Homo sapiens: one gene and its partner. The protein of the gene in region 2 purifies or fractionates together with the protein of the main gene of each other region. This does not show direct contact. Each region holds a gene or a part of one and is shown on either strand. Other genes may lie near its edges.

Region 1 (3,654 bases), on a different chromosome or scaffold from region 2:
GAAACTTGCTCCAGGAAAATGTTTTATATTAAGATAAAAAAAAGTAATATTATCAAATCCCCAAATACAAAACATAGACCACAAAAATAAGCTAAAATGTATTTAAACTGTCATTTAAACAGAAATCCAATAAACATAGTCATTTTCAACATTTCTCTGCTTACTTATTGGTGGGGGAAGGAGTATAGGCTCACCATTGCATTACGTTCCACATGGACTTTAGTTAACTCAATTTCATGATTTTGCACTCTGGGAAAAACTGCCGAGTCTGCTCCTTTACAAAAGAGAAGTATGTCTCCTAAAATAAAGAACCATAGTACTTGACTTAGAATTTTAAGGCTGGTATTGTGGTTTTAGTAAGAGTAACTTTTAAAGCGGTCTCTCTCACCCAAGTGTTGTATATTCTGAGCACACCTTGCAATACTCACCTAAATGGAATGAGAAATCTTGGCCTTCAGTCTGTCAGAAAGGCATGTACCACCTCTTCAAGGTCATTATGAACACAATTAATAAGCCAGAGTTTACAATAGGCACCTCTGTTAAAATATACTTCCTCCCACCAATTCATGGAGGGCTGGGCTTGTGTCAAGGAGCTGCATCTGAATTTCTTCTGAAAATGTATGCCAGGTGCAGTGGCTCATGCCTGTAATCCCAGCATTGTGGGAGGCTGAAGTGGGAGGATCACTTAAGCTCAGGAGTTCAAGACCAGCCTGGGCAACACAGGGAGACCCTGACTCTACTAAAAATTAAAAAATTAGCCAGGCATGGTGGTACACACCTATAGACCCAACTACGCTGGATGCTGAGGTGGAAGGATTGCTTGAGCCCAGGATGTCAAGGCTGCAGTGAGCTATAATCTTGCCACTCCAGCCTAGATGACAGAGTAATACCGTGTCTTAAAAAAAAAAAAATGCAGTGAAGCCATGGCCTAGAGCACACATATGGCATCTACAGATGTCAAGAAGAAAGCTCAAGCTCAAACAAGCTGAAATAATTTTGAATAAACTATATTAACTAGCTTCTAAAACAATGGCTTGATAGTTTTTACTGATGAGAATAGCTTTGTAGAATGCTGGTATAATTGCAGCTTTAGATCACTTCACACACCCAGGAAATATTCACAGTTGTGCACTAAGACAGACACTTTATCCTTATAAGGGAAACAACCGAGGTCAACAAATTAAAAAGTGTAGCTCTGAGGTCAATGACCTTTGTAGACCAGTTCCACAGACATTTCACCATTTGCTGTAGAACATGTGGACATGCACACATAAGAATAGCAAGTATTTGAAATGTTGTGTTTTTTTTTTCATTTATTCTTACACATCCAAAGTGTATTTTAAAATTCACAAAACAAACTCCATGGTCACTTATTAAAATCAATTTCATGACTTTGCAATCACACCACAAAGTATGAATTAAGTGGGATATGTTCCCCCAAGGATCTGTCTGTATCCTCCCATTCTGACATTAAGGAATTTAGAAAATTTAATAGTAAAACGTAAATTACTGGGAAATAAATCAAAAATTTTTAGAAAACAAACCACCTCGGCACACCACACACACACGTATCTGAGAGCCTTCGAATAAAGCAGGATTGCTCGCCCATGGGTCTTGCAGAATCTGAGCAGAAGGCAAACCACCATGGTGCCTCCAAAGACATGAGGGAGCCCAGGATTACAGTACCAGTTCCCCTGCAAAGGGCAAGCTTTACTCTGCTCAACAAAGAACCTGAGCTCTGGAGTGAAACTGCAATGCCATTTCCCAGAAACCAGGCCCTTAGTCCTCTCTACCTCACCTGTTTCCAGGGAGTGTCAAGCAGTAGGGGAACCAGGAAGGTCAGTGAGGGATAACAAGCAACTCCCTATACTCAAGGATTCTGCTGCTAGTAATCCCAAACCATCCAACTATGCTGGGTGGCTGCATGTAAACATTACTGGTAGACTGGTCAGTACCCTGAACCATATAAAAGTCATCCTTTCAGTTCCTGTTCGAACACCCAAGGCAGAGGGATATGGTTCTGCTACCAAGAAAAGGCACACCCTGTCATAACAAGGGTTCTGTCACTAACAATTTGGTAAACAGAACATCTGTGCTTAAAAAAATACATGAAAGCATATGCAAAAGCTACTGCTTTGCATGACTTTCACTAATCCTACACTACTACATGAAATGATTCTCTTTCCTGAAAGAGTGAATCAACCAATAAGCCTACAAATCAACAAAGAGAAAAATTCAAGCTTTTCAGACATGTACCTTCTTGAGTCTTCACAATTACACTCATACGTCGCCGGACAGCATCAAAGTTTAAGGTGTGAAGAAGTTCATATCTTTAAGAGAAATGAGCAAAGTAAAAAACCTAGAATATACTGAGAAAAATAAAGCACAACAGAAATATGTTAAGATATTTAAACATCTTAAATCAACAGATAGCACTGGTTGTGTGCACAACTGGTACTTTCCTTTGTCTCAGAATTTCTCTGAACATAGAACATGCTGTCAGAGGACACCAGTGTTAGTTAAGGGGTATTTATAGCCCCTCAGTATATTACTTAAAATGGTAAGGAGAATGACCACATAAAAATGGAAGATAAAGAGCTGTCCCACCAAGCCATATTTGGAGGGGTCTAGAAACAGTCCCACTCTGCCAATTATTTTAGCAGCATTTATGTATGGAGTGCCAGGCACAGTGCTAGGTGCTGGGGAATAGAGGTGAATCTGCCTGAGTCCCTTCCCTTATGCGGGTCACCATATGATAAGGGAGACAGAGCATAATGAGATAACTACCCTTCTAGTTTCTCAAATACTGTAATAAAGGCACTTACAGGGAAGATATAAGAACACAGAAGGAAGTCATCTGAAAGGAGGTTTCCTGGAAGAGGACATGCCTGAGCTGGGTTCTGCAAGGGTAATATGATGAAGAAAGGGGGCCATGGCATTCTGAGTAGAGGGAATGAGCACGGCAGCATGAGAGCACATGGCCCATGGAAGACTTTAAGTAGTTCACCAATGCCCAAAAAACTCATCAATAGGGGAATAGTAAGAGATAAAGCAAGAAAGGTAAGCAGGGGCTGGAAACACATCTTTGTGAGCCATTTCTGGAATTTGGGATTGTATTGTAAGAGCAAAAGAAAGCCAATAAAAGGGTTTAAACAGTGGAATGACATGATGAGACTGGTCAAATGTGTGTGTGGATGGCTGAACTAATCAATGGAGAGACACAGAAGAGTTAAAATAAGAGTTGGTTATTAGAAAAAGTGAGAGGAAATATTTCCTTGAAAATAAACAACTAGTATTTTTTAAAAAAAGTATTTACTACATAGCTTGTTTTGGTGGGAGTGAGGGGGTCATTAGTCTTGCGGGAGTATATGTATAAGACATCTAACATGGCATCTGGTTTGCTGTTGGCCAGATGTGGGCACTGTTGCAGATGGGCTAGAATCTAAACTCTGACAATGACCCTGGGTCCCTGTCAGTCAGACCAAGAACCTTCCTCTGGGCTTCTATGAATCTCTCTCCAAAAGGGTGCATTACCCAAGTACCTGTAAACATATTACAGGTTTCTGAGATGGGTCTCAGGAGATCCTAGGGGCCAGAATGAAAGTCAGATAACATAATTATATTTCAAGTTCAGATGAGGAAATTCAAATTAAT
Region 2 (3,754 bases):
TATGGTTTCAAATGCTACTTTGATTTTGTATCAATAGGTAATTTCAGTTCTTCGTTTCCTATTTTCCTTTGCATGAGACGAATGCAGAAATCAGGCTAACATACCAAACCATCCTAAACTGAGGTCTTTCATGGTAATGGGAAATGTTTTTCCAAAATAAGCACAGAAGCTAATAAAATTATGGAGGCTGAACACTGGCATGGTTGATATGTACTTAGAGACACTGGAATAATTATTAACCTATTTGCAAACAATTGAGAACATGTAACAGTGTCAGAACCCTTCCCTTTAAGGAGATATACCTCTAAAAAAAAATTGTGAATTCTAGTGCCAAAGTTGTAAGTAGACACAGAAAAATGAATTGAAATTAAGTTAAAGGAAAATGTTATATTAAAAAAAATTACTTGACACAGTATAGGTTGAATTTGAGAAAAAAATAAATAATGTAAATATTATGGTATACGCATAAGCAAAAAAACAGGTTTTTCCCTTTTTTTAAGTCTAGAACTCATGATTTTATTATAATGGTCGTTAGATTGCTCTTAGATTCTCCTAATATCCAGCCTGTCTTGCTTCATCTCTGTTAGCCCAGAGTCCTAGTTTACTCAGAGTAAATGTTACACCTAGATCAAAGAGCATGAACCTGCAGTGGGAGGATATTCAAGGACTGAATTCTGCTCTGCCATTCCCAAATTGAGTAAACCAGGTAAAGTTTCAAAAACTCTTAGGGCTTTCACTGTTTCATAGGAAGAATTGGGATAATGTTACTTCACTGGGCAGTTTGGAGTGAAAACAAAAGTATGAGACATGCCTCGTAAATTGCAAAGTGTTATATGTTGTATAATATTCTAGATACTAGCAACAGCAATAATAATAAACAGTCACAATATTGGCAGTCTAGCCCTCTCAGATCCATAAATACAGGCCTACAGCAAATGAAATGTATTTCTATAAAAGTGCCTTTGATTGGTTGTTAAATTGGTTTTAAATGTTTCTTTTTTAAAGTGGATTCTTCTGGCCTGGAATCCTCAAGATGAGTGGGGAGGAGTTCACCAGAAAACATAGAAGCAATTCCTTCAGTGTTAGAAAAACTGAGGGCCCTCTCATCATCTGCCTATCTTTCTGAGAAATTGGTGCTGACCACAATGTCCCTGGGTGCCTTTTCTTAGCTGTACAATGAGGGCAACAAGCTAGGTGATCTCTACAAGCGTACAATTTTCTTGCCTTCAGTCTTATTCATAACTTTGGTCATGTTCTCCTTTTCTTTTATTATTATTATTTTTTTGAGACAGAGTCTTACTCTGTCACCTAGGCTGGAGTGCAGTGGTATGATCTCAACTACTGCAACCTCTACGTCCTGGGTTCAAGCAATTCTCCTGCCTCAGCCTTCTGAATAGCTGGCACGCGCACTATGCATGCGCATAGGTGCACGCGCCGCTACGCCCTGCTAATTTTTGTATTTTTAGTGGAGACAGGGTTTCACCATGTTGGCCAGGCTGGTCTCAAACTCCTGACCTCAAGTGATCTGCCCGCCTCAGCCTGCCAAAGTGCTGGGATTACAGGCGTGAGCCACCAGGCCCGGCCATGTTCTCCTTTTCCTGAGAGACCATTTCAAATTCATATAGAAGTCTGAAAAGACTCGTTAGCCACAGTCCCAAACACAAATCTTGTCAGTTCTGATCAGTATTTCATTCCACAGCCAATCCCAGTCTGACTAATCACAGCATCACAGTTAATACTCACAGCGTCCTTGGAGAAATGACCATTGTCCACAGTGTCCATTGGTACCAGTGGCTTCTCAAGCCTTGCCCTAGGGTCTTCATTGAATCAGTTATCTTTTTCAGAGAGTCTCTTCATTTTGGAATTAGGCAATATTACCAGATGGAGATCCTTATGTTGCTGTTAATGTCTTTTCTCTGACTTCTCCTAAAACTGTTCCCTCCCCTTAATGGACCTTTGGTAAGTTAGTAATAATCCTTCTACCCAAAAAGAAGAAAAGCACTTACCTTCACCATTAAACCAGTATTTTAAGCCCTAGACTATAAGGCTAACTTGGAAAAGGAGGGAGTTTTCTGTCCCTTCTTCCCTTTCAAATACTTTTGCAGATTTTTACAGGGATAAATAGTGAGCCACGTGGCAGTCAGACGGCAACAGGTTTGGCCCCACTTTCTCAGAAAGCCTCGGCTTGGTTTTGCCGCTTAATTTTTAACTTCATTTTCAAGTTCTCACTGTTAGAGTATCTCAAAAGATGTCATCGTGTGTTTCTGCTTTGAACTGTGCATACAACCATTCAGTCAACAAGCCTTTTTTTCTGAAAGCAAGGGGGCATGGTGTGGAGGAAAGGGCAGGGCTCCTGAAATCAGTGATGGAGTCAGACCCATATTCACTTCCTAGTGTTTTCCCTGAGCTTGGACAAGTCACTGAACCTCTTTGAATTGGCTTCCGCTTTAGTAAAGCAAGGATTGTGTTACTGTACTCATGGGGTTATTGAACAAATGAAATACATATTCTAATTGGTAGTAGCTCCTCAATAAATGAGGTGTTCATTCCTCTTCAGGAGTTCAGTTAAGTCAGCTAGATTTTCCATATGCATTTGGTGCCCACAGCCTAATGAATGTGAACTGTGACTGCCCTGGCAACTTCCCAGGAAGCTGCCTTGTACCCCTCCTTCCTGTTTCATATCATCCATGTCTTCCCTAATCCATTTTCTGCTTGGCTCCCGACTCTTGGAATTGTGTCCTATTTGTAATCATTAATTTTGAGACTGTGGTTGCTATTGGATCTTCCTAGTGTGACGCAACCCTTATAAAATGAAATGAGAGCCTTCCCTCTCTGGCTTATCAGCTTCAGACTTCCTTAATTGAGTTCCGCCATCCTAGTGAGTCTCACCATACTCCCGAAATAACCTGCTGGAGTAGGCTTATCCTACTCAACTCCTCAGATCTCTGTATTTAATTCTATTTTATTGCTGTTGTAGTAAATTACCACAACTGTGATGGCTTGAAACAACACAAAATTATTTATTTATTTACAATTCTAAAGGTCAGAAGTCCAAAATGGGTTTCACTGAGCCAAAATCAAGGTATTGGCAAGGTTGTGCCCCCTCCAGAGGCTTTAGGGGAAAATCCATTTCTTTTTCTTTTCAGCTTGTAGTGACCACTGCATTTTTTGGCTCTTGGCCTTTCCTCCACCTTAAAGCCAGCAGTGTAACATCTTGAAGTATTTTTCTCTTATTCTGACTCTTCTGCCTGTCTCTTATAAGGACCCTTGTGATTACACTAGGGCCCATCTGCAAAATTCAGGAAAATCTGCCCATCTCAAAATTCTTAACTTATTAAACATGTAAAGTCCCTTTTGTCATATAAGGTAATATATTTACAGGTTCTGGGGATTAGGACATGGATATCTTTGGAGGACAACATTCAGCCTACCCTTTTGAGGGATAGAGGGGTAGCAGGAAGAGTTGAAACAATTCCTTCCTTTCTTTATTTAAAAATTCTGGTTATTGATTTATTATAGTTATCATGTGCCTGATAAGCCAATGAAAATAGTTATAATGGCCAGGGGCAGTGGCTCATGCCTGTAATCCCAGGACTTTGGGAGGCTGAGGCAGGAGAATCGCATAAGCCCAGGAATCCAAGACCAGCCTTAGCAACATAGGGAGATCCCGTCTCCACAAAAAAATGCAAAAATTAGCTTGATGTTGTGGCACATGCCTATAGTCCCAGCTACTCAGGAGGATTGCTTGAGCCCT

Evidence for each region. The genes of interacting proteins can lie anywhere in the genome.
Region 1: the proteins of SLC17A2 (region 2) and ATP11C purify together in Homo sapiens (affinity purification with mass spectrometry; 2 studies listed by BioGRID and IntAct, with this or other methods). This does not show direct contact.

Annotation. Positions count from the first base shown.
Region 1 is NC_000023.11:139,782,970-139,786,623, forward strand, and holds part of ATP11C (phospholipid-transporting ATPase IG), read right to left. Parts: intron 2,331-3,654; coding exon 2,257-2,330; intron 299-2,256; coding exon 195-298; intron 1-194. UniProt on the Homo sapiens protein: Catalytic component of a P4-ATPase flippase complex which catalyzes the hydrolysis of ATP coupled to the transport of aminophospholipids, phosphatidylserines (PS) and phosphatidylethanolamines (PE), from the outer to the inner leaflet of the plasma membrane.
Region 2 is NC_000006.12:25,928,534-25,932,287, forward strand, and holds the start of SLC17A2 (sodium-dependent phosphate transport protein 3), read right to left. Parts: upstream 2,159-3,754; 5' UTR 1,744-2,158; intron 1-1,743. UniProt on the Homo sapiens protein: Acts as a membrane potential-dependent organic anion transporter, the transport requires a low concentration of chloride ions. Mediates chloride-dependent transport of urate. Can actively transport inorganic phosphate into cells via Na(+) cotransport.